Regions from separate parts of the Homo sapiens genome. Here all the other regions are linked to region 4. Evidence: fine-mapped expression QTL. A gene starts in region 4. Each other region holds a variant in brackets. All regions are shown on one strand. Distances are between the middles of the regions.

What was found.
Region 1: its variant is fine-mapped to the expression of ST3GAL1 in whole blood (TOPMed, PIP above 0.99).
Region 2: its variant is fine-mapped to the expression of ST3GAL1 in whole blood (TOPMed, PIP above 0.99).
Region 3: its variant is fine-mapped to the expression of ST3GAL1 in whole blood (GTEx, PIP 0.95).
Region 5: its variant is fine-mapped to the expression of ST3GAL1 in whole blood (INTERVAL, PIP 0.95).
Region 6: its variant is fine-mapped to the expression of ST3GAL1 in whole blood (INTERVAL, PIP 0.99).

Annotation. Positions count from the first base shown.
Region 1 is chr8:133,518,663-133,523,853 of GRCh38, forward strand. All of the region lies in intron 2 of ST3GAL1 (ST3 beta-galactoside alpha-2,3-sialyltransferase 1), which reads right to left. Among named protein-coding and RNA genes, the nearest start is that of ST3GAL1-DT, 49 kb to the right of the region's middle. RefSeq lists an enhancer at 4,995-5,164. The variant A/G (reference allele first, on the strand shown) is at 2,857.
Region 2 is chr8:133,462,558-133,466,557 of GRCh38, forward strand. ST3GAL1 (ST3 beta-galactoside alpha-2,3-sialyltransferase 1) reads right to left here. Exons shown (of 10, transcript NM_173344.3): 6 at 3,337-3,533; 7 at 2,221-2,400; 8 at 857-902. Among named protein-coding and RNA genes, the nearest start is that of ST3GAL1-DT, 110 kb to the right of the region's middle. The variant G/C (reference allele first, on the strand shown) is at 2,213.
Region 3 is chr8:133,539,175-133,544,365 of GRCh38, forward strand. The region is part of intron 2 of ST3GAL1 (ST3 beta-galactoside alpha-2,3-sialyltransferase 1); the gene reads right to left. Among named protein-coding and RNA genes, the nearest start is that of ST3GAL1-DT, 29 kb to the right of the region's middle. The variant C/G (reference allele first, on the strand shown) is at 2,428.
Region 4 is chr8:133,569,287-133,573,869 of GRCh38, forward strand. ST3GAL1 (ST3 beta-galactoside alpha-2,3-sialyltransferase 1) reads right to left here and starts at 2,601. Exons shown (of 10, transcript NM_173344.3): 1 at 2,407-2,601. ST3GAL1-DT (ST3GAL1 divergent transcript) reads left to right here and starts at 1,286. Exons shown (of 2, transcript NR_186509.1): 1 at 1,286-1,584; 2 at 1,772-4,570. RefSeq lists enhancers at 361-430, 388-1,241, 601-820 and silencers at 2,611-3,100, 3,291-3,350.
Region 5 is chr8:133,476,900-133,482,090 of GRCh38, forward strand. The region is part of intron 3 of ST3GAL1 (ST3 beta-galactoside alpha-2,3-sialyltransferase 1); the gene reads right to left. Among named protein-coding and RNA genes, the nearest start is that of ST3GAL1-DT, 91 kb to the right of the region's middle. The variant A/G (reference allele first, on the strand shown) is at 3,111.
Region 6 is chr8:133,487,725-133,492,915 of GRCh38, forward strand. The region is part of intron 3 of ST3GAL1 (ST3 beta-galactoside alpha-2,3-sialyltransferase 1); the gene reads right to left. Among named protein-coding and RNA genes, the nearest start is that of ST3GAL1-DT, 80 kb to the right of the region's middle. RefSeq lists enhancers at 757-1,540, 3,018-3,563. The variant G/A (reference allele first, on the strand shown) is at 3,153.

The DNA.
Region 1 (5,191 bases), 50 kb before region 4:
GGTCAGGTAAACATAGTGACAAGCAAGGACTGCAAGGACTCTAAAACCCAAAAGCTACATTTGCTCAGCAGTACTATGCGCCAAACACTTTGAATAAATTATCCCACCTAATTCTCAAGAAAAGTCTTCTAGGAGGTGCTATTTTTAATCCCCAGCTTGCAAGTAAGGATCTGAGGCTCAGAGAGATTAAGGCCCTTGGTTAAGGCCACAGAGCCTGTAGGTGCTGGAGCAGACTCTGATCCCAGCAGTGCAAGGCTCTGGAGGAGAATCTGTAAACACGACCTCAGGCTGCTATTGACAAGGGCAGCCCGTGGAGGGAAGAGAGGAGGCCTGAGATTAGAGCCCCTCGGAGGTGCAAACGTCTGTCTATGTTAAATTCTGAAGGGTAAGCAGAAGAGACATGGAGGTCAGGGTAGGGTAGGGAAAGGGAGGACAGAGGGGCCTGGTGAGGGCAGGCAGGGCAGGCATGAAGGTCTAGGGCCTCATTAGCAATCAGAAATGCAAATAAAAACAGAATAAGACATCTTTGACACCTACTAGCCTGGCAAAAATTAGAAGACACTGTGATGCCAAGAAGGCACAGTGATGCCAAGTGTTAGCAGGCATGTGCAGACACTCATGCCTCATGCCCTGTGAGTGAAAGTGTGGACTCATTAGCCACACTAGCTAATGGAGGTACAGGTGCAAGGACGTACCTGGAGGTACAGAGGCAGGTTACACACAGGCACACCCTAGGCCCCAGCAATTCCATTCCTGGGTAAATACTAGAGCTGTGCAAGCTACTGAGCAAATTCCAGAATGTTCTTATGTATGTTAAAGGAAGATAAATTATGGCTCACAAAGAATTTAAAATAGCATGGGGGAAATGCTTTATTATAATGTCAAGCTGGCATGAGTCAGGAAATAAATGGGATGACAGTAGTCACCTTATCCATAACAGAATTACCTGGGAAGTGTCCGAGAGATACATGCCAGGCACACATTAAGAACTCAGTAAAGGAGGCCGGGCTCGGGAGCGCACGCCTGTAATCCCAGCACTTTGGGAGGCTGAGGTGGGTGGATCACTTGAAGTCAGGAGTTTGAGACCAACCTGGCCAACATAGTGAAACCCCATGTCTACTAAAAAAAAATACAAACATTAGCGGGGCATGATAGCACTTGTCTGTAATCCTAGCTACTTGGGAGGCTGAGGCATAAGAATTGCTTGAACCTGGGAGGCAGAAGCTGCAATGAGCTGAGATTGCACCACTGTGCTCCAGCCTGAGTGAAAGAGTGAGACTCTGTCTCAAAAACAAAACAAAATAAACAAAAAGAACCCAGTAAAGGAATGCGGGCAAGGATTCTTACTTACAAGCATCATATTTTGGGACCTCTGTGCAGGTCTTTACAATCTTCCCCACTCATCATTCTTTCAGCCCACGCATATTTACTGAGCAGCTGCAATGGGCCAGGTAACGTTTGTGGGGGCTAAGTCTACAGCAGGGAACAAAACAGATGAAGGGAGCTGAAATTCTAGGGGAGGCAGAGACTATGCAAAGAAATGAGTGTGTAGAGGTCAGCTGATAGGGAGGAACATAGAGAGGCTGGAGCCGGGGACAACTCGCAGCGGGGTGTGGTGTGCACAACACCTGCCCACACGCTGCTTGGTATATATTCCGTGGTGAATTCCATCTTGCTGGAGGCAGCCCCCTCTTCTGGCACCACAGAAGTTTCTGCGTCTTGACACTTCTGCCTTCAAAATGCTCCTAGTTGTTCCACTTTCAACTGAAACAATTTAGATCATCAGGACTCCTAGAGCTTCTCACAAGTCACTGTGAAAAGCTGTTGGGTATGGGCCCACCTAGGACCTTTCCTGAGCCAGGAGCTCATGGGTTTGGACCCCTGTTCAGCAGAAACATGAATCCCCTGCAGGGAAGCAGGGTCTCTGGCAGCCCACCCCACCATAGCCTCCAGTCTAGAACAAAAGGACATTTGCTTGAGGTATCAAAAGCCTCAAAAAGTGCTCTTTCCTTCTACTGCATACGTAATTCCCCTTTTCGGAGTCTATTCCAGGAAATGGCTCAATGTGCAGTTTTGTGCCCAAAGATGTTTATCATGTTATTTTTTGTGGGTTTTTTTTTTTTTTTTTTGACAGAGTCTCACTTTGTCGTCCAGGCTAAAGTGCTATGGTGCGATTCCAGCTCACTGCAACCTCTGCCTCCCAGGTTCAGGCAATTCTTGTGCCTCAGCCTCCTGAGTAGCTGGGATTACAGGTGTGCACCACCACACCCAGCTAATTTTTGTTTTTGTGGGTTGTTTTTTTTTTTTTTTGAGACAGTCTTGCTCTGTTGCCCAGGCTAGAGTGCAGTGGTGCAATCTTGGCTCACTGCAACCTCCGCTTCCTGGGTTCAAGCAATTTTCCTGCCTCAGCCTCCCAAGTAGCTGGGATTACAGGTGTGCACCACCACACCCAGCTAATTTTTGTTTTTGTGGGTTGTTTTTTTTTTTTTTTGAGACAGTCTTGCTCTGTTGCCCAGGCTAGAGTGCAGTGGTGCAATCTTGGCTCACTGCAACCTCCGCTTCCTGGGTTCAAGCAATTTTCCTGCCTCAGCCTCCCAAGTAGCTGGGATTACAGGTGTGTGCCACCACACCCAGCTAATTTTTGGGGGTTTTTTGAGACGGAATCTTGCTCTATTGCCCAGGCTAGAGTGCAGTGGCGTGATCTCCGCTCACTGTAACCTCCATCTCTTGGGTTCAAGCAATTCTCCTGCCTCAGCCTCCTGAGTAGCTGGGATTACAGGCGCCTGCCACCGTGCCCAGCTAATTTTTGTATTTTTATTAGAGACGGGGTTTCATTATCTTGGCCAGGCTCGTCTC[A/G]AACTCCTGACCTCGTGATCCACCCACCTCGGCCTCCCAAAGTGCTGGAATTACAGGCGTGAAACACCGCCCCCAGGCCTATCATGTTATTTTTAATAGCAAAATGTAGAGAGCTCCTCCTGCATGCTCCACATTAAGGAAATTATTAATTAAACCATGATATGTTAAAATATCTGTTACAGGACAGAAGTTTTCAATCATTAATAATGATCATGAAGAATTTTAAATAACACGGAGGAATATCTACTACACTGTTAAATTGGAAACGAAAAGAGAAAAGCATTTCAGAATTATAATTCCAATTTTAGTATATGTTAACCTAGAGGAACCAAAATGCCGTGAAAGAAAACAGTATGAACTACTAAGATAGGTACTTTCTGGGAGAGTGGTTTCTGTAGGATTTTCTGTTTCTGTTTTGAGCTTTTATACTTTTCTCTGTTTTCAGGATTTGTTTCAGTGGTCATGGGTTACTTTTCTGAATGAAACTTCCAAACTTCCAAACAAAACAAAACAAAAACCTTAAAAATGGTGGTGCCTTTATAATCTTCTCCAGCAGCCCAACTCTGGGCAGAAAGCCTCCCAGAAGTCTTTGACGTGAGCACTCCCAAGAGCTATATAGAATGGGGAAGCCATCTAAGATTTAAAATTCTATTCCTAGAAGCTTATACCCAAAGCAGAGAAAAAGTAGGAAGCAATATAGAAAGCTAGCAGGAAGGAAAGTTCAGAGGATGTGGAAAAACGCAGACCCAGCAACATTTTTTAAAAATCTAAAAAAAATTGCAAATGGCTTCCCTGGAATGGTGGCTCAGGACACTGCCCCTAGATGCTGAGGCTCTCCAGGCACAGAAGGTTCCCTGCTTTAATTCAAAGCCCCATCACAGGCACAGTGTGGTTTGATCTCTACCCCTCTGGAAATGTGTTGCAATTCCAAGTCATAGCTGAGGGTCTGAGGCTCAGAGAGGTCAACTGACTTGCCTGAGGCCACACAGCCTGTGTGGGGCAGAGCAGTAAGTGGGACCTTAAGCCTTCTGATCTGACTCTCAGAGTACTTTACCCTGTACCCCAGCTGGTCCAGGGTGCTGAGGCGCTGGCACAGAAAAGCCTACGTTCATATCCAGCAGAGTCACCTGGTGGCCGCAGGGTCTTGCTAGTTAACCCCTGAGAGCCTGGGTTTCATCCAAAAACTGAAGACAAACATAACACTGGCCTAAGGGGCACAGTGTTAAGCACGTGACACTCCACAAGCACACACTAAATGGACACACTAATTACTGTCGTTATTTTGCCACCACTATCCTCCCTGGAGTACAATCCTTCTCTGGCCTCCTGGTGTGCTCCCAACACCCTCACCAGGCGAGGGAAGGGGCTCATCTCACTGTCTCTGTCCCTAGAGCCTAGGGCAGAGAAGGTGCTAAGAAAATGAGCACTGTGGGGAAGAGACAGGGATGAAATCTCTCAAGAAGAGACAGCCTTGCTGGGGGAGACATTCAGCACGGTGTTTCTAAACTTCATGGAGTTTCTGGACAACTGTGCTCAATTCACTTCTAATTTCAAACAGATGGGGCTGCGCTCTGTCACTCCCACCTGGCCCAGGGCCCTGGCGAGCAGCAAGGGGCCTCTCCCTTCTGCCCTGCTGAGAGGGGAGTTGCGTGGCTTCTGGGAGCAGGGGAAGTGGGTCCTAACTCTTCTGTGGGGGGTTGCTAATCTCCCAAACACCACAGAGAACATGGGAGACTGGAGGGTCCAGGTCTCAATTCACAGACACTGCCACACCCCCATGCACACCTCTGTCCTAGCACAAGTCACAAAGGTGTGCAGCTGTTGCTTTCTCCACCCTTAGAAGCAGTACAGAGATTCCACAGCCAAACCACCTGAGCCTCAATCTGGCTCTGCCCACTTTGCTGGGCACCCTCAGGCAAGTAACTCAACCTCCCTGTGCCTTCATTTCCTCCTCTGTAAAGTGAAGATGGTGATGCTTAAAGTGGCAGCTACTTCAAAGGGGCACTGGAAGGATGCATCAGGAGTTCCTGCAGAGCATTTAGAAGGGTCTTATTGCAGATGGAATGGCCACTTGTCCTGCTCTGTGACAAAGCAAAGTCGACTCTCATGGGACTCTCAGGACCTCCCTGGAGGCCTGCAAGAGGTCAGCACCATTCCTAGGTACCAGATTTATGACCAATTGACAAATGTCTGTTGAGCTTCTTGCTGGAGAACAAGTACAAACGGACTGGCAGAAGGCTGGGTATGGGAGCCACAAGGGTCTCTATCCCTCGTCCTCGTCTCTCGAAGTGGGAGTGTATTTTTTCACCCACTGGATGTTGTGACACGCTTTAGC
Region 2 (4,000 bases), 110 kb before region 4:
CTTGATTCCACCACCCAAAGCCTGCCTTGAGCACAACGAAAGGGAATTCTCAGGCAGGAGAGGGCGTGCACGTCCAGAAAGCCAAACTCCAGCCCCTAGGAATGGACTGGAAGGGTGGATTCTGTGGGTCTCTGGTAAACCATTCACCTCTCAGTGTGGCCTCCTACCATCTCTAGGAGGCTGTCCCTTCCACCAACCCCACCCTATAGAGACACATAAGTGGCTTCTTCCCTGAGGCAGCACAACCCAATGCAAAGGGCAAGATGCTGGAGGCACGGGGAGTCTTCAATTCTAGCCTTATCCAGAACTAGCTGTGTGTCTCTGGGCAAGTTTCCTGACCTCTCCGAGCCTATCTAAGTTTGATAGAGTATGCAAAAGGCCAGTGTGGTGGGTACCTCACTTCCCTCCTTCTTCTGCCCTTTGCCCATCTCTTGGCCAGCCCCATGCCAGGGGCCTGCTGGGGAAGATGGAGACATGGAAAGAGATGGAGAAGCAGGAGGTGCAGCCTGGCTTTGAGAGTAATTCACAAACCGCAGCAAGCACAGGGGTCCCCGGAGAATGTGTTAAAACCAGAATGCGGGGCAGCCAGGGTTTCTGATTCAGTAGGTTCGAGATGGGCCTGAGGATGTCCATCTGTGACAAACTCCCGGGTGATGCTGCTGGCCCGGGGGACCCCACTTTGAGAATCTCTCCCAGTGTTTGACCTCTTCCCCCAGGGGGATAGCTAAGTGGGAGATGCTACCTCCAGCGGCCTGGGGATCTGGGGGCTGTCTTGCAACTCAATGCCGTACCTTAGAGCAGAGCCTTAGATGAGGAAGCCTGAACTTAGAACAGAGGGGCCGGGGCCTCCACTCACCTTATCCTGTTTCACTCTGATCTTTGCAGGAACCGGGATGTAGGTGCTGCAGTTGGAGAAAGAGAAGCTGGTTAATGGGGCAGGGGACAGGCCCAGGAACCTGGGCATGCAGCTCTGGGGGTAGTGGCTAGATAATGAAGCAGGCATAGCCTCTCCTGCCCCCCATAGCTTCCCTCAGGGACCCCCACCTCCCTACCCCAGCCGGGTTTCTGCCCACAGCAAGCCCCAATAGACACCAGAGGACGGCCTTTCCTAATTTGAGGACATTCTGCTGGGTTTTGGCCCCATTCCCCAAAAAGGTGAGGAGGACTTGCTCCAAGCACAGCCTTAAGGAGTGGAGTGGGGCCGTGGTGCCTCCACCTCTCAGGGCCAGAGCACCTTTGCCCAGCTGCTGGGGCACTGGCTGGTGAGGCCCGCGGCTGCCCCTTTCTCACCTGGGCGGTTGCATGCACCCTGAGTGCAAAGGTGCCAAAGCTGGTCCCACGGGTGTGATTCCTGCTCCCAGAGAGACTGCAGCTGAGCCACTTCTGGACCTGGGTCCCACCCCACCCCACCCCGCCCCGGTCTGCCTCCCTCACTCCCGGTCTCCTGAGGGCACAGCTCCACAGTCTCCTGCACCCACATCCGGGGGCTAGCTCTGTTCCTAGAAAACCTGGCAGAAGACAGACAGCTTGTGGAAACCTGGACATCAAAACACTTCCCTTCAGTAAGGGTCAGATGACAGCACAGGCTCTGTGTCGAGTTCAACCCTAGGCAAGGTGCTTGGCCGAGCTCCAGAGTCCTCACTGGGAGGAGCTAATGATAATGGCTATTGTGAGGATTCATTGAGATAATATGTGCCGAGTGCCACGTGCGGTGTCTGCTCAGGAAACTAAGCTCCTGATTGTCAGGGAAGCCACAGCCGCGTTGCTCAGCACTGCTTGCCCTGGGGAGGGGCCCAGGCTGCACCTGCACTCCCCACTCCTCATTTCTTAGGAACCCTCACCCTGCCACGCTCACATAAGTTTGAAAAATAAGGTGTTGTTATTTGTCAGGCTGCACTTCAGAAATAAAGGGAGGCTGAACTCACATGGGCTGACCCTTTCTAGTGGCGGCCCCTTCCCATAGAGTCTCCAGGGCGCGTGGAGGTCCCTTCAGGAATTGTTAGCAAGAGGACACTAAAGCTTGTGGTTTGTTAAGTGATAGGGAGAGAAGAGTTGGAGTAGTCGGGGAGGCGGCCACGGGAACTGGGCTTGTGTGTGCCGGAGGAGGCTGGGGGAGGGGAGGCACCCCGGTGGAGGCACAGCAGGACCACGGCAGGGTGGGGGGACAGGGTGCCACTGCAAGGGGCAGAGCAGCGAGGCGGGGCCACAGGAG[G/C]GACTCACTGGGAAATGGTGCCCGTGGTGATGGCGCTCACCACCCACTCCAAGTCGATGGTCTTGAAGGGCACCAGGATCATGCTGACATTATCTCCCAGCTCCCGGAAGCTCTCAGGGTACACCAGATGGTGGGTGGTCTTGGTCCCAACATCAGCTTCAAACCCTGCCGTGGGCGCCTTGTTCATCCTGGGAGAGAAGGGGAGAAAGCTGAGTCTTGTAGCACGGGCACCCGTTCTCAGACAGCCTGAGAGCTCCGAGAGAGTGAGCCTCCAGTGTGACTTCAGGGGTGTCACCTGCCTTCCCCGGGCCTCCTTCTCCTCATCTGTAAAATAGAGACAATGAAGACATAGCTGGAAGGCTTCTGCTATTTTTCTCTCTTTCATGACCTCAAGGGAGTCTAGCCATCACCACCACTGCCCGCCTGTCACAGACAATCTCATCCAAAGGATATTTCCACAGCCCTTTTTTTGCAGTCAAGGAAACCTGACTCTGATCCTTACCATGGATGTACCCATGGGACACCTGGTACACTGAGGCTCTGAGAGGCAGGTAAGTGGTCTAAGGACTAAAGTCAGGAATCACAGACAGGAGAGACTATTCTAGAAGGCTGCTGGGGATGGCCAGCCCCCACCCCTGCACTTCTCAGCGTGGAACACTTGTGAGTGGTATAGTGGGAATGGCAGGAGACCCAGGACAGACTTGGGGCATCTTCCTGAAATGTCTGTTTCACTTGGCGACAGGGGAAAATATATTTTACATAAAATATGTGGTTTTATTATGGCCTAGATTACAAAATGGGGATGAATTTTAAAGATAAGAGTCCTCACATTAATTTTGCCCTCTCCCCAGGCCTCCATGTGCCAAGCTCCCAACAACGGGGGACCTCCCGTGTATGGCTTCCTCTCTGCACGCAGAGGCCCTTCTAGTCCATTCCAATCCTGCAATGATGCAGAGATGGGGAAGCTGAGGCCCAGGGGGTGCAGTGTGGAGCCTGGGGTCCCTGGGTAAGTTCAGTCCCAGGACTGAACCTTGCCTTCCTGAGCCTGAGCCAAGATGCTTCCTACAGCTCCAAGGGGCCCCTGGGTGCAGCACGGTAGGCTTGGGAGAGGGTCTGGCACTCACCTGAGGACAAAGTCGTGACTGTCTATCTCAGGCCCATAAGAAGACTCCCTCAGGTTGCCCGAGTTGCCCACAACGGCGCAGCGCCGGCAGCCCACCGACCTCTTCTCCAGCATAGGGTCCACATTCCCAGGCACCACTCTGAACAGCTCCTTGATGGTGTCATTCAAGTTATTGGGCTTCTTCTCCCGCTGGAGCCTCTGTGGGCGGAGGACAGAAGGTGGTCAACCTGGCTTTGTGGCTCCAGCCTCCTGGCAGCAGAGCCCCTGAGCTACCTGCTGTCGTTTACTGGGGCCCTCCTGTTCACCCTTCTCTCTGCTGGGCCCCCGGAGATGGAGGCGGCTCACACACAGACACCTCCACTTCCTCCTTCAAGGAGACTAAGGGTTACTCAGGAAGTAAAGAGAGCATTCATGTATTCTGCAAGTGTTTACTGAGCACCTACCATGTGCCAGGCACTGCTGAAGCCGCTTGGGTGATCCAGCCACACCTGGACTCACAGGCCCCTCCCACTCCACATGTGATCAGCGTTTCTCCAACCTGCTCCTCCCTGGGGGCTCCTGTCTCTCTGAAAGGCCCTCCATCCCCCTACGTGTCACCACTTGAAAGAGAGAAAAATAGCAGAAGCCTTCTAGCTGTGTCTTACTCCCACCCTGCTCAGACACCA
Region 3 (5,191 bases), 30 kb before region 4:
GTGCCTTCGAAAATCCCAGCAGAACCAAGAAGAACGAAGTTCTTTCGCCCTGTTCCCTGAGCCCAAGCACAAGGACTCAGAGGATCCAGAAGGCAAGTAAATTCACTGTACCATGGAGCACCAGGATTCCCACCGCCAACTCCCCTTGTGGCCAGCTCACCCGGCAGGCAGCAGGTAAGAGAAGGCACTCTCGCTGACACTGCAGCTCACAAAGCGGGCAAAGAACCAGAGCACGTCCAGGAAGCTGACGCTCCAGCCCCTGGGCTGCACCCCACTTATCTAGGGCTTGCATTTTATTTCAAAGTCATAACTTTGCATTATTTTTCCTTAAAGAAAACTCCCAAATTGTATAAGCTTCAGGACCCAAAGAACCAGAACTGCACCTAAACATACCACCGATTTATTAATTGATCTTTTTCTCCCATTAAATTATTATCATCGGCCAGTTATGGTGGCTCATACCTGAAATCCCAACGCTTTAGGAGGCTGAGGCTGGGGAATTGCTTGAGCCCAGTAGTTCCAGACCAGCCTGAGTGGCACAGCAAAACACCATCTCTATAAAAAATATAAAAATTAGCCAGGCATGGTGGCGCACGCTCGTATTCCAGCAACTCAGGAGGCTGAGGCAGGAGGATCGCTTGAGCCTGGAAGGTCAAGGCTGCAGTGAGTTGTGATGGCACAACTGCACTCCAGCCTGGGCACCAGAGTGAGACTCTGTCTCAAAATAAATAAGTAAATAAAACAAGGAAACAAATAAGTTATTAACATCTTGAGGACATAGCTCTCATCTTATTCTGTTTTACCTCCAGTGCTCAGCCAAGTGCCAGTGAGCTGGAAGGCACTCAGTAAGTATTTACTAAATGACTGAATGAACAAGAAGAAAGGAAAAACAGCCTGAATGAGAAGCTCCCCCGCTCTTCATTTCACTCACGCCACTTGGATCCATCCTCAAAATCACCCTCTACACATTAATCCGCTAATCCTTCTCTCCCCATCAGCCTTTCAGATACTCCAGAGTGCTCCCAAGTCTCCTCTCCCCTCCCACCCCAAACAACCCCTGTTTCTGCCACTGCTGCTCTTAAAGGTTATCAGCAACGGAAATTCCAACAGCTCCTCGCTGCTGCCCATCGGAATATTGAACGACTGCCAGGTTGTCCTCTTATCTAGTCAGAGTGCCCTGGCCTGCATTCGGTCTCTGGGCCAGCTGATAACACATTTTTGTTGTTGGAGGAAATGCTTTAGCTCCAACGGGGAGTGTCCACCCATGTGACACTGCCCAGAAGGAAAACAGGCCTGGTTCTCTGAGGGGAAATGACAGCAGCCACAGCCCCCTGAAGAAGACTGAATCAGTCCCTGTGTATCCTTTGATCAACAGCCCCTGCTCTCCTTCTCACCTCCCTATTTGCTCTTTCCTGTCCGTCATGTGACTTTGTTCTAGAAACATTTCCTGGAAGAGACACTCCTTGACCACCACACCCATGCTATGCCCTGCCCTGGGACCCCCTGCCCCTGCCCACACCATATATATATATACAGACATATATATATATAGACATATATATATATATAGACATATATATATATATAGACATATATATATAGAGACATATATATATATAGACATATATATAGAGAGACATATATATATAGACATATATATAGAGAGACATATATATAGAGACATATATATAGAGACATATATATAGAGACATATATATAGACATATATATAGACATATATATAGACATATATATATAGACATATATAGACATATATATAGACATATATATAGACATATATATGCAGACATATATATAGACATATATATATAGACATATATATGCAGACATATATATAGACATATATAGACATATATATAGACATATATATATAGACATATATATAGACATATATATATAAACATATATATATATATATATATATATAGAGAGAGAGAGAGAGAGAGAGAGAGAGAGAGACTGTGTGTCTCTCCCTCTTTCTCACCCCTAGCTAGGATCTTTGTCTGATTAGAGCAGTGCCTGGCACAGAAGAAGCTCAGAAATGTTTGTCAATGCCTGCCTGAAACCAACATTTATCTGGTGCACATTCTGCATGTTTGCTGGGAGCTGGAGACACAAATGTGTTTAAGTTAAGGCCTCCACACTGAAGCAGCTCTCCCAGGAAAGCACTCTGCAAGAGAACAAATGCTCCCTCTGCAGAGACGCCTGGTTCTGTAATCACACCCTCAACCTGATCAAGGTCTTCACAAGGACAGGACAGCAGTCCTGCATCCCCCACAGAAACTCTCACTCCCACATGCAACTCATACACCACCACGTGCGTCTACACACACCTCCTAACAGGACTCCATCTGAGAGATGCAGACCATATACACGGTCCACATGTTTTGGCTGGCCTACACTGTGA[C/G]GGCCAGACACTGCTGTCAGCAGGGACAAATGCTTCCCCAGTCTTCTGCTCTAGTTTCTGTCCTGAGAGAGGTTTCTCCCTAGGCCTTTTGATCAAAAGCCGAGGGACAAACAGGTGCTTGCTATAAGCTTGCTGCTTTACCAGCTGTATAATCTGCACAAGTTAATTAGCTTTTCAGAGTCTTGGTTTGCTCATCTGTACTTGGGCCACCGAGTTGATGTCAGAAGTAACAGCAAGGGAAAGGGTCTGAAACTGGGCCTGAACACGGTTTAATAAATGCAGTTGGTGGCGGCGTTGATAGTGAGAGTAGAATGACTGTTCAGCATCATTCAGATAGACATGAATTTCCAGAATGTCCTAGCATAATTAGTATGAACCTATGGTGATTTTAATAGATAGATAGGTCAATTTGAAAATGATCTGAATGATGTGTGGATATACATGTGGATGTGATTATGTATGTATATAAATGTGGGTATCTGTGTGATACACCACACACACACACACACACCCACGCACACACAGACACACACATCCCAGTTATGTCTGCTCAGAGGGCCTAGAGGCAATGCTACCCCAGAAACAGTGAGCACACCTAGTGGCCAGATCTTGGTTTCTAAACACCATTTTCCATGGAAAGGAACCAGGGCTCCTATGTTGATTCCACCACTGAGGTGAGGAGAGTAGAAGATGAGGCTAGAATACCTTGCTATGACAACAAGGCAGCAAGTGCTCAAATGACGATGGAGAAATGTTAGAGACACAGGAGCCAGGCCCTAGTGGACAGATTTGGGGCAACGTAAATGTCAAAATAACTAATGATCACAAAAGACTGCAACCTATTGAATAAAGTTAAAATCTGTGAGTCCACACTGATATAAAGAAAGGAAGGGCTGGGCATGGTGGCTTACGCCTGTATTCCCAGAACTTTGGGAGGCCAAGGCAGGCAGATCACTTGAGGTCAAGAGCTGGAGACCAGCCTGGCCAACATGATGAAACCCCATCTCTACTAAAAGTACAAAAATTAGCTGGGCATGGTCGTACATGCCCATAATCCCAGATACTCAGGAGGCTGAGGCAGGAAAACTGCTTGAACCTGGGAGACAGAGGTTGCAGTGGGCAAAGATCAAGATTGCACCACTGCATTCCAGCCTGGGTGAAAGTAACTCCTCCATCTCAAAAAAAAAAAAAAAAAAAAAAGATGAACAGAGGAAGAAAATTTCTTCTTTATAGTAGGAAACCAACTAATAAATGAAAAAGAACCAGCAAAATTTAAAAAATCACCATTTGGCAACTATGATAATAATAAATCTATTCAGGCAAGAATCATCAAAAGATGCTAAAACTAATGACTGATAGACTGAGGACTAATCAGAAATCTACACAATCCCGGAAGTTCTCCCCATGAGATGCTTATTAATTGCAAAGGTGAAACAATAACTTTGCAGTGGAGACACCTGGAAGACACCACCTTAACTGAGAGCTCCAAGCTAACATCACCAGTAATGGGAGACAGCCACACCAGTGCCTCTTGATACAATGCACTGAAAAGGACACATCAGCTCTGGGCTAGTCCTGCCAACCTAATCAGGAGGAAACATCAGAAAAGCCAAAATTGAGTGCATTCTATCAAATAACTGGCCTGAACTTGTCAAAAAGGTTAACGTGCTGAAATACAAGATTAAGAAAGTTTTCCAAGAAAGACACATGCCAACTGGCTTTTCTTTTGCCTTGAAGGAATTTAGCAGGGGCAAGTGATGAAATCTGAATGAGAAATCAGAAGGTTAGATAATAGTCAAATTAATGTTAAGTTTCTGACTTAGAAAGTTGTGTTCTAAGATGCAAGTTTCTGATTTCAGGAAAAAATATAGAGAAAAAAGAAAAAATGAACATAATAAAATGCGAACATTTGAAAACCTGGACGAAGGAGGTCCAGGAATTTGTTGGCTGTTCTTATAACTTTTCTATAAATTTGCATTTATATAAAAATAAAATAATTGAAAAAAATTAAAAATGGAAACGAATGCTCTGGTTTCATGAGATTGAGAAAAAAATCAATATATTACTTAGTGCATTGTATGTGCCAATAATTTAAAGCTATAATAATTATTAGTAGTAATAATAATTATCAGTAGAACATGCACCTGGCACATAATAAGCTGGGAATGGACAAAAAATATTATCACTGTTAACATCATCATCATCATCATCATCATCATCATTCTGGATATGCTTGATTGTAAGAAAGAACTAAAAATTTAATACTACTATTTGTGTTACTTATAATTACTTCATATCTGCGTTAAACTCCATTGTTTGAAGGTTTGTTATAGAAATGCCTGCTTAAAATGCATACAGCACTCCTCTGTAATGGTGAGGTGCTTGAAGACCAACCAAAAGAAAGAGGCAGGAGGCCATTTTCAAATCTAGATGTGCAGAATACATATCAATTGGATCTTTTCTCATCAGTGGAGTCTCTGCTTTGTTCTTGCTTGTGCTTGGGTAACCCAACGATAAGAAAGCCCAACTTCTAAATGCCAAACCTGGGGCCTTTGCCCAGACCTGTAGGCCATCTAGAGTCTCTTCTCTGTTCCTTCTTGGGTCCCTTCCATACAAACTGTGCATCTCAATGATCAGCCCTTGTTATTCCCACTTGCACTGGCTTATGCACCAAGCAGAACCTCCTGCCATGCCCCCAGTCTTGTCCCATAAGATGGTGAGCTAGCTCCAGGTCCAAGGCTCTTCCCAACCTGTCTATCGTATA
Region 4 (4,583 bases):
GAGCCCTCTATTCATTCTTTATTTAGCAAAAAGTGTACGATGGAACTTTTTTCCCTAGACCTGAAGTCAAGGTATACACATACACACATGTAGAGTATGAACTACCTATACATACACACATTCACTTAATTATATGTATTATCGCCACTCGCAATTATGCAGAACGTATTTTGGAGAATGTATTATTGGCCTCATTTTGCAGATATAGAAACTGAGACGCCGAGAGGTTAAGTCTGGCGACCAAAGAGAGACAGAGACAGAGAGACGGGAGACTAGAAGAGGCCCCACGCTGTACCCAGATATTGGCAGAGGCTGAGGGGCACGGAGTGGTGAACTCTAGTCAGTCATTTCAGCCAACCATGGGATTTCAGAAAACAGCCGGCAGGGGTCCTAATGTTTGGGGCAGGAAGGGGAGGTGCGGGAAGGCACTGAGGGACCCCCGCACTGGGCGCCCCTTCCCCACCGCAGAGACAAGCGGCAGTTTCCACAGCAGCCGGCAGGGGGCAGTGCACCTTGCCTTTTCGAAGCCTCTGGGCGCTTGGGCAGCGCGGGGTAAAGAAAATCAGGAGGCTCCGCCCGCAGCTTCTACGAACAGGCCAGGAGTAGAGCCCCCGCACGTAGTAGGTGCTCCAGGCACGTCTAGAAGCCTAAAGGGCTTGGTCGATACATTTGAACTCCATTTTAGAGACTGGAAGGGAAGAAGGGGGCGTCCGGGCCCCTGCCAGCACCTTCCACCTTGGGGCCTTGTCAATGAACACTGCGTTAGCACCTACGACGTGCCAGGCGCCCTGGCGACTATTGGAAAACCCGGCTCCCCTCTCACCCCGTTTTCCTCGTTGGCGAGTCGGCCTCGCCTCCTCCTCCCGTCTCTTCCTCTCACCACACACACCCAGCCGCAGAGCGGGGGTGGGCGCTCGCTGTCTCCCTGGAGAACCAGCTCGTCGCAAACTTGCGGGGCTTGGGGACCCGCGAGGGGGAGAAGTCGGGAGAGGCCAGGGGTGCCCGGAAACAATCACGAGAAAGCCGGGCGAATGCCTGATGCAGGGACGCGGCGAGCCAGTCACTGCCCTCAGGGTCACGGCTGACTCCCTCTGCGGGACTCGCCCAGCCCGCGAGACGCAGTGACCTGCCCAACCCCCACCCCCTTGCGCGCTTCTGGGTGCGCACGTGTCCCCTCGCCCAACACACCACCGAGCCCCGCGCATGGTACGGCCGCCGAGGACCCTAGCGTAGGAGGGAGGAGCGAGTCAGGGCTCCAGCTGACGAGCAGAGCCAGACGATCCCCACACGCTTCCTGGGAGACCCGGCTGCAAGGCCAGGCTAATGCGCGCTCCGACGTCTCTGTGCCAAGCCGGGGCGCAAGCTCAACCCCCATCTCAAGTTCAGCCGCGCTTCCTCCCGCAAGGTCACGCTTAAACACTCGCGCAGAGAAAGGAGGAGCGGAAAGTTGCGCCACCGTCCCGATTCCAAACTAACTGTACCCTCACCAGAGCGCCTCGCCCCAGGGTCACCGCTGTCCGTCCCCGTGCGCTCCCAGAAGGGGTGGCCCTGCCCCCACGCAGGTCACACACACGAGAGACACAGGCAAGTTGCTAACTTTTGTCAGATTATTTCTTGGGAGCTGCGACGCCTCACGGGGTTGGGGCGGATTCAGAGTTTCGAGTTGCCACTAACACGACTCCGGCCGTGCTCTCCTTGGCCCACCCGCGTCCCCCACTGTCCGCCACGCCGCGTTCAGCTCTCTTGTCCCGGGTGTCAACTTCACCCCCAGATCCGGAGCAGCGCGCTCTGACGGCGTCCCCGGGGCCGATAGCCACCTCCCGGATCTGCGCCTGCTTGCAGCGGATTGGGGGACTCGATCCGGATACTGTCCCACGGCCGCTCGTCCAGAACACTGGCGGCCTCCGCGGTGTCCCAGCCTGTGACCCCAAATCCGCTCGAGAGCGCCTGAGCCCGGCCACCCAGCGAGGTCTCCTCCCACGGGCGGCCCCAGCGGAGGAGATCCCAGCCCGGCGCCGGGTGCAATGTCACTGGGGCTGCTTTCGGGAACCGCTGCCCGGGACTTGGCGTAGGTTCCCCACAGAGCTCCAGGCAGCTCCTCCAGTGTCGGCCGAAGACCCCTAAGCCCGAACCTCCACCCCGACCTTCTTCCTCTCCCAAAGCCCTGGGTGGTCGCCGCTGCCAAGGAAGGGGTCTCCCTTCGAATGTCTTCCACTAGAATCCCGGGGTCTTCAGTCCCAGCTCCACTGTCACACCCTCCTAGTCCCCTCCCCACCCCTTCAGTTCCCGGGTCCAGACAATCAACCTTCCACTCCGAGAATCCACAGGAAACTGCCCGAGCCCCAACTCAGGCGGACGCAGCCCCCGCGCACCCCGAGCAGGGTTCGCCTCCGCGCGCGCACTCACCACGGCTGGAGACACGCTGGAGTTTCCGGGATTTGGGCATGAAGGGGTTCGGAGGAGAATACAGGGGTGTGGGTGTCCCGGACACTTGCCCCCTTCCCAGCTCACATCGCCTCTTCCTTCTCTCTCCGCTCTTCTTCCTCCTCCTCCTCCCTCCGGTCTAGGGCTCTTTGTCTTTGCAAAGTGTCGAAACTGTCTGGCATAGTGGGCTCCGCCGGCGGAGGCTGGAGCCGAGGAAGCGAGGAGGCGGGATGAGGGTGGGAGAGGGCTCGGGAACACCTTCCCCCGGGTGTAACGGGAGTGAAAGGCGGGGCGACCGAGGAGGGGCCGCCTTCCCTGGCCGGCCGGGGCCGGGTGCCAGGGCGCGCCAGAGCCCAGCCACCGCCTCCCCTGCGCGCGGCCCTCCCCTTCCTCCGCCCAGTGCCCGCCCCTCCCGACTCTGCGCCTCCGTTCGGCCCCGCCCACCCCAACTTGGCTCGGCTTTCCCTTGGCTCCGGGCTTCCTGCAAGCCGAATTTAGCTCTGCCAAGCCACGTGGACCGCAGCGGGCTCGGCAGAGGCCGAGCCTGGGAGACGCCGGAGGCGGCGGCTGCGGCGCGGGGACCTGATCGGCGCCCCGAGAGGAGCTCCCCGCTCTCTGGACGCGGCCCTCAAGCTGGCGGGGCTAAGGAAGAGCGCCCGGGAGGCCCGGGAGCCACTGGGGTCCGTTTCAGCAGGAAGACGGGCACGCACCGAGAGGATGGCAGTGCCCAGAAGAACTCGAGTCGGGGGCACGGTGGGGAGAAGGGGCCGATCCCCTGCTGGCGACCGGGCAGAGCCACCCACTTCCTCTAAGGGCGCGGGACTCGAGGTGGGATTTAGGGAGGGGGAAGGGAGGAGCGTGGGCTGGACGACTCTTGCGGCCAGAACCGCGTTCAGAGCCACAGAGCCGGGCACTGCGGCCGGCCCTGGTCCCGGCCCCGGCCCTGGCCCAGCCCTTGCCCTGGCTCGCCTGCCGCCGCTTTTTCCTTCCAGATGCGGAGGCTGCGGCTGGAGCTTGGGGTTTGCGGATTAGGCTTGCAGTTATTCAGCCCTCCCTCTTTTACAGGGAAGCGGGGGCGGTGGAGACTTCTTTTGCTGAAAGGCAGAGTGCAGCGCTTTGATGCTAAATGCAGTACACAAGTCATGTAAATCTGGTTTTACGGTTCTTAACCCCTTACTGAGACTACCTCTTTCGCAACTTTTCGGAGGAATGTTAGAGGAAAGAGGCACAGTTTGCCTTTGGGGTCATTGCATCCTTCCAGCGCCCCTTGCTCCAGCTGGAGAGAGATCAACCTTTTGCAGTGGAAGGGGAGAGTCCCCCAGCCTTTGTTTCATCAGACGGCTGCTGTAGTACAGGGATTCAGGCCAGGGCCCGCATGGCCGGACTTCTTGGTTCAAATCCTGCACTGCCACTCAACGGATGTGTGAGCTTGGGCTAGTGACTGAACCTCCCAGCCTAGGTGACTCTGTGCCTCGGTGTCCTCATCTGTGAGAACCGACCTAAGAAGTGTCTGTCTGATAAAGCTGTTGTGATGAGTTAGTGAATTCGTACACATAGAACCTTTAGAACTGTCTTTGACATGTAGTAAGTCAGCTGTGTAGATGGTGGGTTTCTCCAGTGTCAGGTCCCTGCCCACAGCAGGAAGATGACCTGTGCTAGAAGATGGGGGCTAGGGTGTTGGGGAAGACTTCAGGGACTTGGGAGAGAAAAGGAGAAATATTCAGAGATGAGAAAAGTAGAAGAAAAACCAGCTTTTAAAAGGGGGAGGAGAGAGAATGAGAAAAATAACTACTAGAAAGGGAAGGAAAAGATGAATAGCCTTTTAGGTACTTCGGGACCTGCTCTGAGACCTCTTGCCTGACGCCCTTGGTTTTTGATAGAATTCTAGAGAAGGGGTGAGCCCTTTTGTCTGCCTGGACACATCCTGTGGGCTTTCCTCTTTCTGAAACTCAGGTCAAGGTGTTCACTGCATCTCCAGATTGCTTGTGTGCATGGGAGGAGGGGGGCAGAGAGTTCTGCTTACATCGGCTACTGTCCCCTCCACCAGCAGCGTCTTCCAGCAAAGAAGAGCTTCTAACATGCACCAGACTTTTAGCTTTGGCTGGGAATATCGTCTGGGCCAATAAAGAGTTTTTGGATGAAATAACAAAAGTGTTGTT
Region 5 (5,191 bases), 92 kb before region 4:
TGTAGGTACAATATACACAGGAATTGTTAAATGCATGTTATTTGCCTTTCTCTCTACTTCATTCTCTTCCAGATTTTGGATTTCAGCAACAAGCACAACAACAATGGTATGCTTAGAGAGTGGCCCAGGGTTCCTTTTACCTGGGCATTCAAGCTCTGCCAATTGGCCTCAGTTCCATAAAAAGGGGCTTTAGATGGTCCAGGTTCAAGTTCTGATTTCCCAGCTGTGGAGCCTTGGGAAAGTTATTTGACCTTCCTGACCCTCAGTTTCTTCTTCTGCAAAGTGGGATACTAACACCCCTACTTATAGAATGGTTATGAAGATAAGATAAAATGATGTATGCTGGGCTTCTGGTATCTATTAGGCCATTGCTGAACTTTAATTTTTCTTCTTCAACATGTGAATGAATCAATATTCTCTGATGATCCACTAAGAGCTGAGAGGATGAGATATTCATGCATACGTATCTCTTCAGATAATCCTCAGAATATACTGTCAGCTAGATATTAGTTTCCCTTTTTGTCTTGGAAGAAACTGAGACTCAAAGTGCTTAGATGACTTGCCTAAGGAAAGGAAGGAGCAGGATCCGAGTCCAAATCCACAGTCCTCTGATTCCTTACATCGGGAGGGGTTGGGGGACCAGGAACAGGGGGTTGGGGGGCTCTACCCTGGAGCAGACACCTGTCTTGTTAACTGGTCTTCAGATTACTACGGCTGGAGGGATATAGAGCAAGGGGGGAGTATTCTTTTGAAGAAGGCAAACAGGTACCTCTCAAATGCCCATCGGAGACCCCTCTGGCTCTCACCGACACCTTGGGATTTCTGTATGGTACAACTGTGGTTGCACGTCTGCCCTGGAGCGTGGTCTTTTTGGTCTTTGCTTGGAATGCTGAAGAATGGAAGAAATCTGATCGATTCCTCCCCATTCTCAAGGTGTAGATTGTCAATAAGCAGGGTATATTTTTTTCCAGGAAAATTAGAGTTGAAAGGAGATTGATCACCTTTTGGTAGAAAGGGGGACAGCTCCAAAACCATATTAAATCCACAGTGCCCTTCTGAAGACATCCAGGGCCCAAGATGCATAGGGTGCAACCCTCTACAGCTTCCAGAACTAGAAGCCCAACGTATGGAGGACAAGGTCTGAGCTCTGCAGCTCAGTTGGCAACGTCATTTTTATCCGGTCTCTGCTCCAGTTTTCACTTTTCATGACAACCTAGATTTTGTTTATAACCTAGTGGTGTCCACAGGTATCCCATCCAATTCTCTCCCCACCTGCCCCCATCAAGGAGCAGCTCTGTAATTTAAGTAAGAATAACTTCTGCATCATCACAGATAGGCTCACAATTCACTTGACTGGCAGAGGGTTCCCACCTCTTACCCCAGTAATTGATCCAGGGATGGGCATGTGCCTTAATTCATCCAGCCAAGCTTCTGTAGGGAGGGAAGAAACTTTCTTTTGCTCTGGCTGGCTTGTTGTTGACATGTGGAACATCCTGCTGGCTATTTTGCTAGCGTGTGTAGAAGAGACTAGAGCTGAACAACCCGAACAAATGGTGCTAAATCCCTGATCCTGCTCAACCTGCAGCCCCACCCTCACCTTGACTTTTCAGTTACATGAGGGAATAAATCCCCTTTATGGGGTAAAGTAGGTTATTTGTAACTTGAAGCAATGTGACTGACCCAGAGGTCACAGTTGCTCCTACCTCCGTGTCCCTGCTCAGGCTGTCCCCACTGTCCAGAAAACCACCCCACCCTGCTTTGCCGATGGCTCTTACTCATTCTCTAGGGCTCAGCTGGTGCTGACTCCTGGAGGAAGCCCTGCCCTCTCCTGGGGTGAGTTAGGGGCCTCTCCTGGCTCCCTAGGGTCCTGGCTGCACTCTGTCTGTGCTCTTCACACATATGTCTCCTCCCTGGACTGGGAGCAATGTGAGGATGGAAACTCAGCCTCACTATGGCAGTGACCCTGTCACCCGTGCACACACTCAATGCTCAGTGGAGGCTTGGGTCATGAAGAAACCCAGAAATGAATGAAGGGAAACAAAACGGCCAACAGTCCAGAGGGAGAACTGAGAAAGAAAGCACAGACTCTGAGTCACATTTCCATTCTCAGCAGCCTGTCCCACACTACTCACTGCGTGACCATGAACAAGTCACCTAGCCCTTCCGAACCATCCCTTCAATGGGAAAAACGGATTGATAACACAAATTCTGCTCATTTCTCGGGGCCGTCAGCCCATCAAGGTTGTCCATTCATCTCATTCATTGACTGCATATTTGCTGGTCCTTGCGTTCTCCAGGCCCTGGACAAGGTGGCTGGGGTGCATCGTAAAAGGATCTAAGGTAGGCGCCTCCCAGGCATCAATAGGGCCCCAGACCCTGTGGAGCAAAGGAGGCCTGTATGGCTGGATCAGACACAGTGTGGAGGAGAGGAGTGGGTGGGGGGTGAGGGGGAATCTGAGCATGCAGCTGGGGTGAGAGTGTGTTGGGCCAGAGAAGCCACAGTCAAGACTAAGTTTTCTCTGGGTGACATAGAAACCTGCTGGTGGGGCTGAGCAGAGGAATGCCATGGTCTTACTACATTTGCCTTTATAATGAGCAGGGCCTAGGACACCCTTGCCCTTAGTGCCTCTGCACCCCTAATGCCAGGGCAGAGATGAGTTCCCTGAAACAGATGACTGTTGATCCGTGTTGATCAAACAAGGCTCTGGATGAGAGGTCAGGTTTCCTACAATGTCCTGCCTCTGCGTGAGAGATATTAATGCTCTAGGCTGCTGCTAGGGATGGCGTGAGAGGCAGGGCAGAGGGCAAGGTTGTGCTGCACAGGTTGTGGGACTGTGACAGCCTCCTCTCCTCTGGGGCATCCTGCAGCCACACCTCCAAGGCCAGGGCACTCCCCATAACCATCAGAGGCTTCTGAGCTGGTATCATTTAGCGCTTTCCAAAGCCCTGGATAAAACTGCAATGGAAAAGCAAGAACACCGCTATACCCCTTCCCTGGCTGCAGGGAAGAAACCAGGACTGCATGTCTTCTCCGTGCTCTAGCAAGCGTGGGGCAGCCTGCAGGCATGGGGGAATGCCAGCCCTGGCTCCCGGAAATGACATCTGGGCCA[A/G]GACGCCACAGACCAAAGATCTCTGCATGTCAAGTGTGCGGTGAGGGAGGCCGGGCCCCCCAGAACAAGGAGAAAGAAGAGAGGGAGCAGGGAAGGATGGGGAAGGAGGGAAGCTGGCTCCCTGTCCTCTGCCAAATGGCAGTCATTTCCCAGCCACATGCTCAATACGAGGAGGCATGAAGCACCTGCACACAACAGAGCTTAGCGGGGTCACCAGCACAAGACTGACAAATGTCAGCACACTTTTGGGGACTGAAAAGTAAGAATTTCCCTAAGGAGAGTCCCTAATGAAGATAAACTCCTCTGGCAATAGGGAGTTGAGGGGCAATGACCAGAGACTGAGAGAACTGTGTGAAACTCCTGGAAACACAAATGAAGGAACCACACGGGGTTTTGAACCTGTAGTAAATACCCACTGAACGGGATGGTAGTAAATACCCATCACAGGCTGGGATGCCCTCCCAGCCCTTCACACAGCCCCTGGCACTATGGTCACTAGAGAAATGCCTGAGCGAACTGTGCAGGCTGTTGGCAAAATTGACGCTTTCAATACAGAGTGGCCACAACTTTCCTCATGTGATCCCCAAGCCACCAGGAGAGGTGGGTAACCCTTACGCTTGTCTCCCTGAAATGAAAAACTAAAACCCAGAGAAGGCAAGTGACTTATCCAAGGTCACACAGCAAAATGGTAGCAAAGGCAGACTCCTGCCTTCTCCTGTGGCTTTCTGTGTAGCCGTGGCTCATCATTCAATTCCATCAATACCTGCTCTTATCTTCCCTATCTTCCCCATTCCCTTTCTGATAACTTCTTTGGACTTGGTTTACTGTCATCTTTCCAGCCTTGTTTACTCCCCCTTCTTGCTGTGCCTACTCTATTTGAATTATGAATTCAGTTCTTCATTTCAGTGGTGTCTTTTAGTTCTGGAATTTCTACCTAATTTTTTGACAGGTTCTACTTTGCTGGTGAATTTCTCCACCTTGTCATCTATCTTTGTGCAATTTTATTCACCACAGCCGTCTTAAAGCCCACATTGGATATCCTGTGATACTTGGATAATGTGGGTGTATTTCTATTGTCTATTTTCTCGGTTGCTCTTTCTTTCTTTGGTTATTTGGTTCTGTCCTTGGCAGGCCTGGTTGCTGTTTGTATTGTGTATGACAAAAATGCAGAGGCTCTGGATGAGGCTGTCCTCCTTCAGAGAGGACCGGTTGTCTCCTGATGAGCAGGTACAGAAGTGGCACATTACTTTGTTCTAACTGCAGCTGTGTTTCACTTTTCATGAAGACTGGTCTATTTCTGGTTTACTCTTACCCCTGGGGCATAGCCGTTCTCAACAGGTAAACCAAGATGCTTATCAGGGTGACTCTTCCTTACAGGCTCCTATCTCCAATTTCTGTCTCCCCTGTACTATGAGATCACCGTAAGCTTAACTTTTTAGCCTTTCTTTTTTGTTTGTTTGGGTTTTTTTGTTGTTGTCATTGTTGTTGTTGTGTTTTTGGTTTTGAGATAGAGTCTTACTCTGTCGCCCAGGCTGGAGTGCAGTGGCCTGATCTTGGCTCACTATTACCTCCACCTCCTGGGTTCAAGTGATTCTCCTGCCTCAGCCTCCTAAGTAGCTGGGACTATGGGCACATGCCACCATGCCTGGCTAATTTTTGTATTTTTAGTAGAGACGAGGTTTCTCCATGTTGGTCAGGCTGGTCTCGAACTCTCGACCTCAGGCGATCCACCCACCTCGGCCTCCCAAAGTGCTGGGATTATAGGCATGAGCCACCATGCCCAGTCTTTTTAGCTTTTCATCTGCTGTTTTCTGCTTGGTTTCTTAGACTCTGGACCCATGAAACTTAAGTGCTGGCAAATGCCTTGAAAGGAAAATTTTAGAAGGCACAGAGCACATGTTCTTTTCTTTGTGGTTGTTTTTGCTCTAGGTTCTTGGTTCCTTGGGTTTTGGTTGACCTAGCAGTCCTGAACTCACTGACTCCCTCTACCTACCTACCTATCTCTGTTTTGTTTCCCCACCTTGCGAGACTGCCAAACACTCTGAACTGCTGCTCTCTGCTCGTCCTCTGAACCCTCTGCA
Region 6 (5,191 bases), 81 kb before region 4:
TTGGGAGGCTAAGGAGGGTGGATAACTTGAGGTAAGGAGTTCAAGACCAGCCCAGACAACATGGTGAAACCCTATCTATAAAAATACAAAAAAATTAGCTGGGTGTGGTGGCGGATGCCTGTAGTCCCAGCTACTCAGGAGGCTGAGGCAGGAGAATTGCTTGAACCCGGGAGGCAGAGGTTGCAGTGAGCCGAGATTGCACCACTGCATTCTAGCCTGGGCAACAGAGCGAGACTCTGTCGAAAAAAAAAAAAAGGAGAGAGAAAGTAGAATGATCTTCGTCCTTGCTCACTGAAAGCAACATCACAGGGTGGGACAGAGGCTGAGATTATTAAGGAATCACACAAAAGACCAGCTGTGATGGTTAGATTTAATGTATCAGCAGGCATGTGGCTTGCCCCTGTCATCCCAGCTATGTGGAGGCTGAGGCAGGAGGATCACTTGAGTCCAGGAATTCAAGGCTGCAATGAGCTATGATCATACTCCAGCCTGGGGGAGCGAGACTTATCTCTAAGTAAATAAATAAATGTAATGAGCCAGCTTGGCTAGGCCATGGAGTCCAGTAGTTTGGTCAGACACTCGTCTAGGTATTTCAGGGAAGGTAGCATGCAGATGTGGTTAAGCTCTCCAATCAGTTAACTTTAAGTAAAGGAGATGAATGCAGGTGGGCCTCATCCAATAGGTTGAAGGCCTTAAGGGCAAAAACTGAGGTTCCCTGGAAAAGAAGAAATTCTGCCTTAAGATTGTAACAGAGAAGTCAAGTCCTGCCTGAGATTTCAGCCCTCTGGCCTGCCCACCAGGTTTTGAACCTGGCAGCCTCCACAACTGCCTGAACCAGTTCCGAAAGTTGAATCTCTTAATATGCATACACAAATATGGGATAGGCTCTGCTCCCCTGGAGAGCCCTGACTGGCAGCCTTCAGTGCCACGAGCAGAGGGCGTAAGAGGGACTGGCTGATGTCTGGGGGAAGTGGTAGTGACTGAGGGTCCACAGGGTGGACAGGTGATTGGGCAGGGAGTGTGAGAGCCTCCCAGGCAGGGGAAGCTACAGGTATGAAGGCCTGTGGGGACAGTAGGTGAGTCCAACGAACTGAAAGAAAACAAAGTCAAGTGGATTGGAAGACTGCAGCGGCACTGGCAGACAGGGGGGGCCAGGCAAGGTCTGGTGGCCCCCCTAAAGTCTGGACAACCTCCTGGGAGCCACAGGAAGCCCTGGAGGAAGGCCAGAGGGAGAGAGGGAACTGGGGACAGGCAGTGACTGCCTTGGCGCCCTCCCTGTGGGACAGCCAAGGGCTGATGGTCCCTTGCTCCTGTCAAATGACCCCATCCACACATTAGCTGTGTCCTGGGGGTCTCAGTAAGTCTATGTCCTCTTGTCCCTTCAGCCCTAGGGTTGGAAACAGTCCCACCATTTCCAGCCCCAGGGACTGCACCACACTTGCTGTTTCCTACACCACACTATGACCTTGTGAATGACCTTTCAACTCAGCTCCCCTCCACTGCCCACTTTGAATGCACCATTTGTGTCCTGCCAGCACCATGACCAGTCCAGGTGACCCCGCAGACCTAACTCCAAGGGGCACAGCTGACAATGTGGTCTAAGCAATGAGTGCCCCAGGAGCTGTGCCCCACAGAAAGCCATGCCTCCCGCCCCTCCCCGGACACCCCTCTGAGGCGCTGGCCACCTCAGAGGATTTGCAAGAAGCACGTGGGTCAGCTGGATGCCCTGAGCCCTGGCCTCCCCTCCACCTTGGGTAGCTGCTCTCGCTAGAATCTGCCCAAACTCTGCTCCAACTGCTGCTGGGGCACTCACCCATCGGGAGATTTCATCCTCAGGCTCATGACACTGATAGGGTCTTTGGCAGGGATGGCACCAGGGGATCCCTTGCACCACTCAGCCAAGTTCAACACATTCCAGGTCCCACCAGGGGGACACTCCAAGAAGCCTGTCCCCCAAGCTCCCTGATGACAGCATCAGTCCCTCCCATAGAAATGTAGTCAACACCAGTAGAGCCAGAGGGCAAGGTCCCCTTAGCCCGCCCATGGCTGCTCCAATCAGCGCCTGTGGCTTGACCACCGCCCACTCCTGGGCCCCTCTTGGAGTTTGATCTGCTGGGTCCTCTCCTGTTGTTCTCTGACTCCTGCCGGGCTTAAATATCAAAGAATCCTCATTGTTTGATAAGCCTGCAGACAAAAGCCCATGGAATATCTCTAACTAGATCTAGTGGCCTCTGGTCTGCCCCTCCTTCTCTCCAACTCACTCCCTCCCCAACTTATCTGTGCATGCCTGACCCATCCATAGCTAATACATTTCTTGTGTGTGGATGCCTGGCGAAAGTCCCCAGGGGCTCTTCGGGCAGGCATTTGCTCTTTGGGCAGAGAAGGAAGTTGGGCTTTGAGAGACTACGCAGTATTTTAGGGACTAGCTAAAGTGCAGTTCCAGGTCCTATGAGGGAGGTGACACCATAATCCCATTTTACAGAAGGGGATGCTGAGGCCCTTGGGTATCAGTGGCTTACTCCAGGTCACATGGCTAGGAAGGGGTGAGGGCCGATTCCTGAGCCTGCTCTTCCATGCTCCACTGCCGTACCTCACCCAGGTACCCAAGCATGCCTGCGATGCTTCAAGAACACAGCTGGCGGCATGCGTATCTTCACTGCTAGATAGCGAAGCCGCACACTAGGCCGGCTCCAGGATCTAGCCCAGGGCAGTTCACACGCATAAATCTGCTCAGGAGGAACCAGTGCCTCCCAAGACATGATGCCAAGGGCCTTAGTGATCCACAAGTGGCAGGTGAATGACAACCAAAGGGAGAGGGAAGGCTGTGTAAGGCAGGTGGCCATGGAGACAGGGGGCATAGCACTGATGGAGGAGGGCAGAGGGGGAGGGTAAACCAGGCCTGTGCCCAAAAAAGCACATGGTGGTGATGATGGAGACGCTGGTATGTTACAGAAAACAGGGCGCCCTTCAGAGGGGCTGCTGTGGGTGGAGCTGGATCGTGGAAGTCCTGAGGAACGTGGACTTGGGGACTGAAGGCAAAGGGGAGCCCGGCTGGCTTGTGAGCAGCAGACAGTAGTGATTGCAACTGGCACATCGTGGCTGGACTGGAGAGGGGTGCACAGGACACCCTGTGGGAGTCTAGAGAGTGGCCC[G/A]GTCTCCATGAGCATGACTTGGGAAGTCCGTTTCCTTTGGAGCCTGTTTCCCTGCTCCTTTCTGCATCGGCGCCTGCCCATTTGCCCCACAGCCCAGCAGTGCCAGCAGGTTGGGAGAACCCTTCGATGTGCTTGCAAATCTTCCTCTTTGCACCTTAGTGCCTCCTGCTTGTTCCTTTGCTGGGGAAGTCGGGGAAAAAAAAGATTCTGCTGAAGCACAAATAGTGGCTCAGAGTAGGCAGTGTGGAGAAGTGCCCCAGAGAAACACGATTAACCAGGATTAGGGTCACATGAGAAGGAGGCGAATATGTTTTCATATTCATAGCCTCACAAAAAGAATTTAAATCCACAAATCTTCTTATGTGTGTGGATCGAGGAGTGCTACATTTGGAGTCCTAGGATAGCCAAATGACATTAGAAGCGTGTAACGTGGCTGGGAATTCCAGGGGTTGCACTATGCGCGCACCCAGGCTCACACCTGTCCCAGAAGAAAGGATTTCCCCCCATTTGGGTGGTGCTGGAGGCTGATAAAGAAGAGACAATTCAGAGCTCCTAATGCCCCTTACACCTGCCCTCAGGCATCTGTCGCTGGTTCTAAAACCCTCAGCATAAAGGAAGGGCTGGAGGTGTGGCCGCTCTGGAGCCGAGATTCACAGTCTGACACGTGGCTTAAAGAGGCCCCTTTCTCCCTAGTCCGTGACTTCACGGAAATATTTTAATGCTACTGATTTTCAGGGGCATCCAGGAGGTGCCTGAAGGAGCTGAGGGGCAGCCTCTAGCAGTGTCCCTAATGGGGATTAAGATCACGTTATAAACCCAGCTACTACAATGGCGAGGCATGCAGCACCCTCCAGGGTTCCGGGATGGGTGGGAGCGTCAGGCGACAGCAGGCATTTCGCATGAACCATCCCATCCCTACACACTGAAGGTTGGAGGGGTGTCACGGTGTCCAGTTGGATCACAGGATTAAACTGCCCTGGCCCAGGCTCAGCCCCACCCCCATACCTGGGCCCCAGAGGAGAGGAAGAGTAGCTCTCATCAGAAAGGGCCCAGCAGTCAGGAAAGGAGGGAGACCTTGCCCTCTTGACCAGGGGCTGCCAAGCTGTCCAGTGGGAGGAGCGAAAACATGGGTGGCCGGAGCATATGGGCAAGGATCGGCACCACGGGGTCAGGGCATGCTCAGAGCAGCTGAGGCCTGGCAGCCCTGGTGAGGCTCGGGATGGACGATACGAGGGGACACTGGGCAGCTTGGACCAGCAGAGGCCCAGCAAGCAGGTGGGAGAACAGAGGCCAGTTCTGACCAGGAGGCATTCCCAGAGCCTGTCCCTGGGGGTCAGGAGGCGTGGACCATGGAGAGACTGAGATACTAGTATTGATGTCTCCCCAAGTGCACCCCCAGCTCATGAGTCCTGGAGATGGCTGGGGAAGAAAGCACTGGGTCCTGTCCCTAAAGTGCACCAACTCTGTGCCAGGCTCCAAGTCAGCACTTCTCTTAGGTTGCTTGTTTGACCTCAACAGCTTTACCAAGGGGTGGTATGTTCTCTTTCAAAGTGAAGAAATGGGGCCAGGCGTGGTGGCTCAAGCCTGTAATCCTAGCACTTTGGGAGGCTGCAGCAGGTGGATCACTTGAGGTCAGGATTTCCGAGACCAGCCTGGCCAACATGGTGAAACCCTGTCTTTACTGAAAATACAAAAATTATCTGGGCGTAGTGGCATGTGCCTGTAATCCCAGATACTGGGGAGGCTGAGGCATGAGAATTGCTTGAACCTGGGAGGTGGAGGTTGTAGTGAGCTGAGATCGCACCACTGCACTCCAGCCTGGGTGACAGAGCAAAACTCTGTCTCAAAAAAATAAGATAAAAGGTGATCCAAACAGCCCGGCTCCAGAGGCCCAGCTCTTCATGCTAAGAATCTACCTTTCGGCCTCAGCTGGTCTCTCTGGATGGCGCCCATACCCCACCTCGGGGAGCGTCCATGCGGCAGGGGGAGTTCACCTCCACTCAGCCCTACTCTGCCCACTCTCCCCACAAAGTGATCAC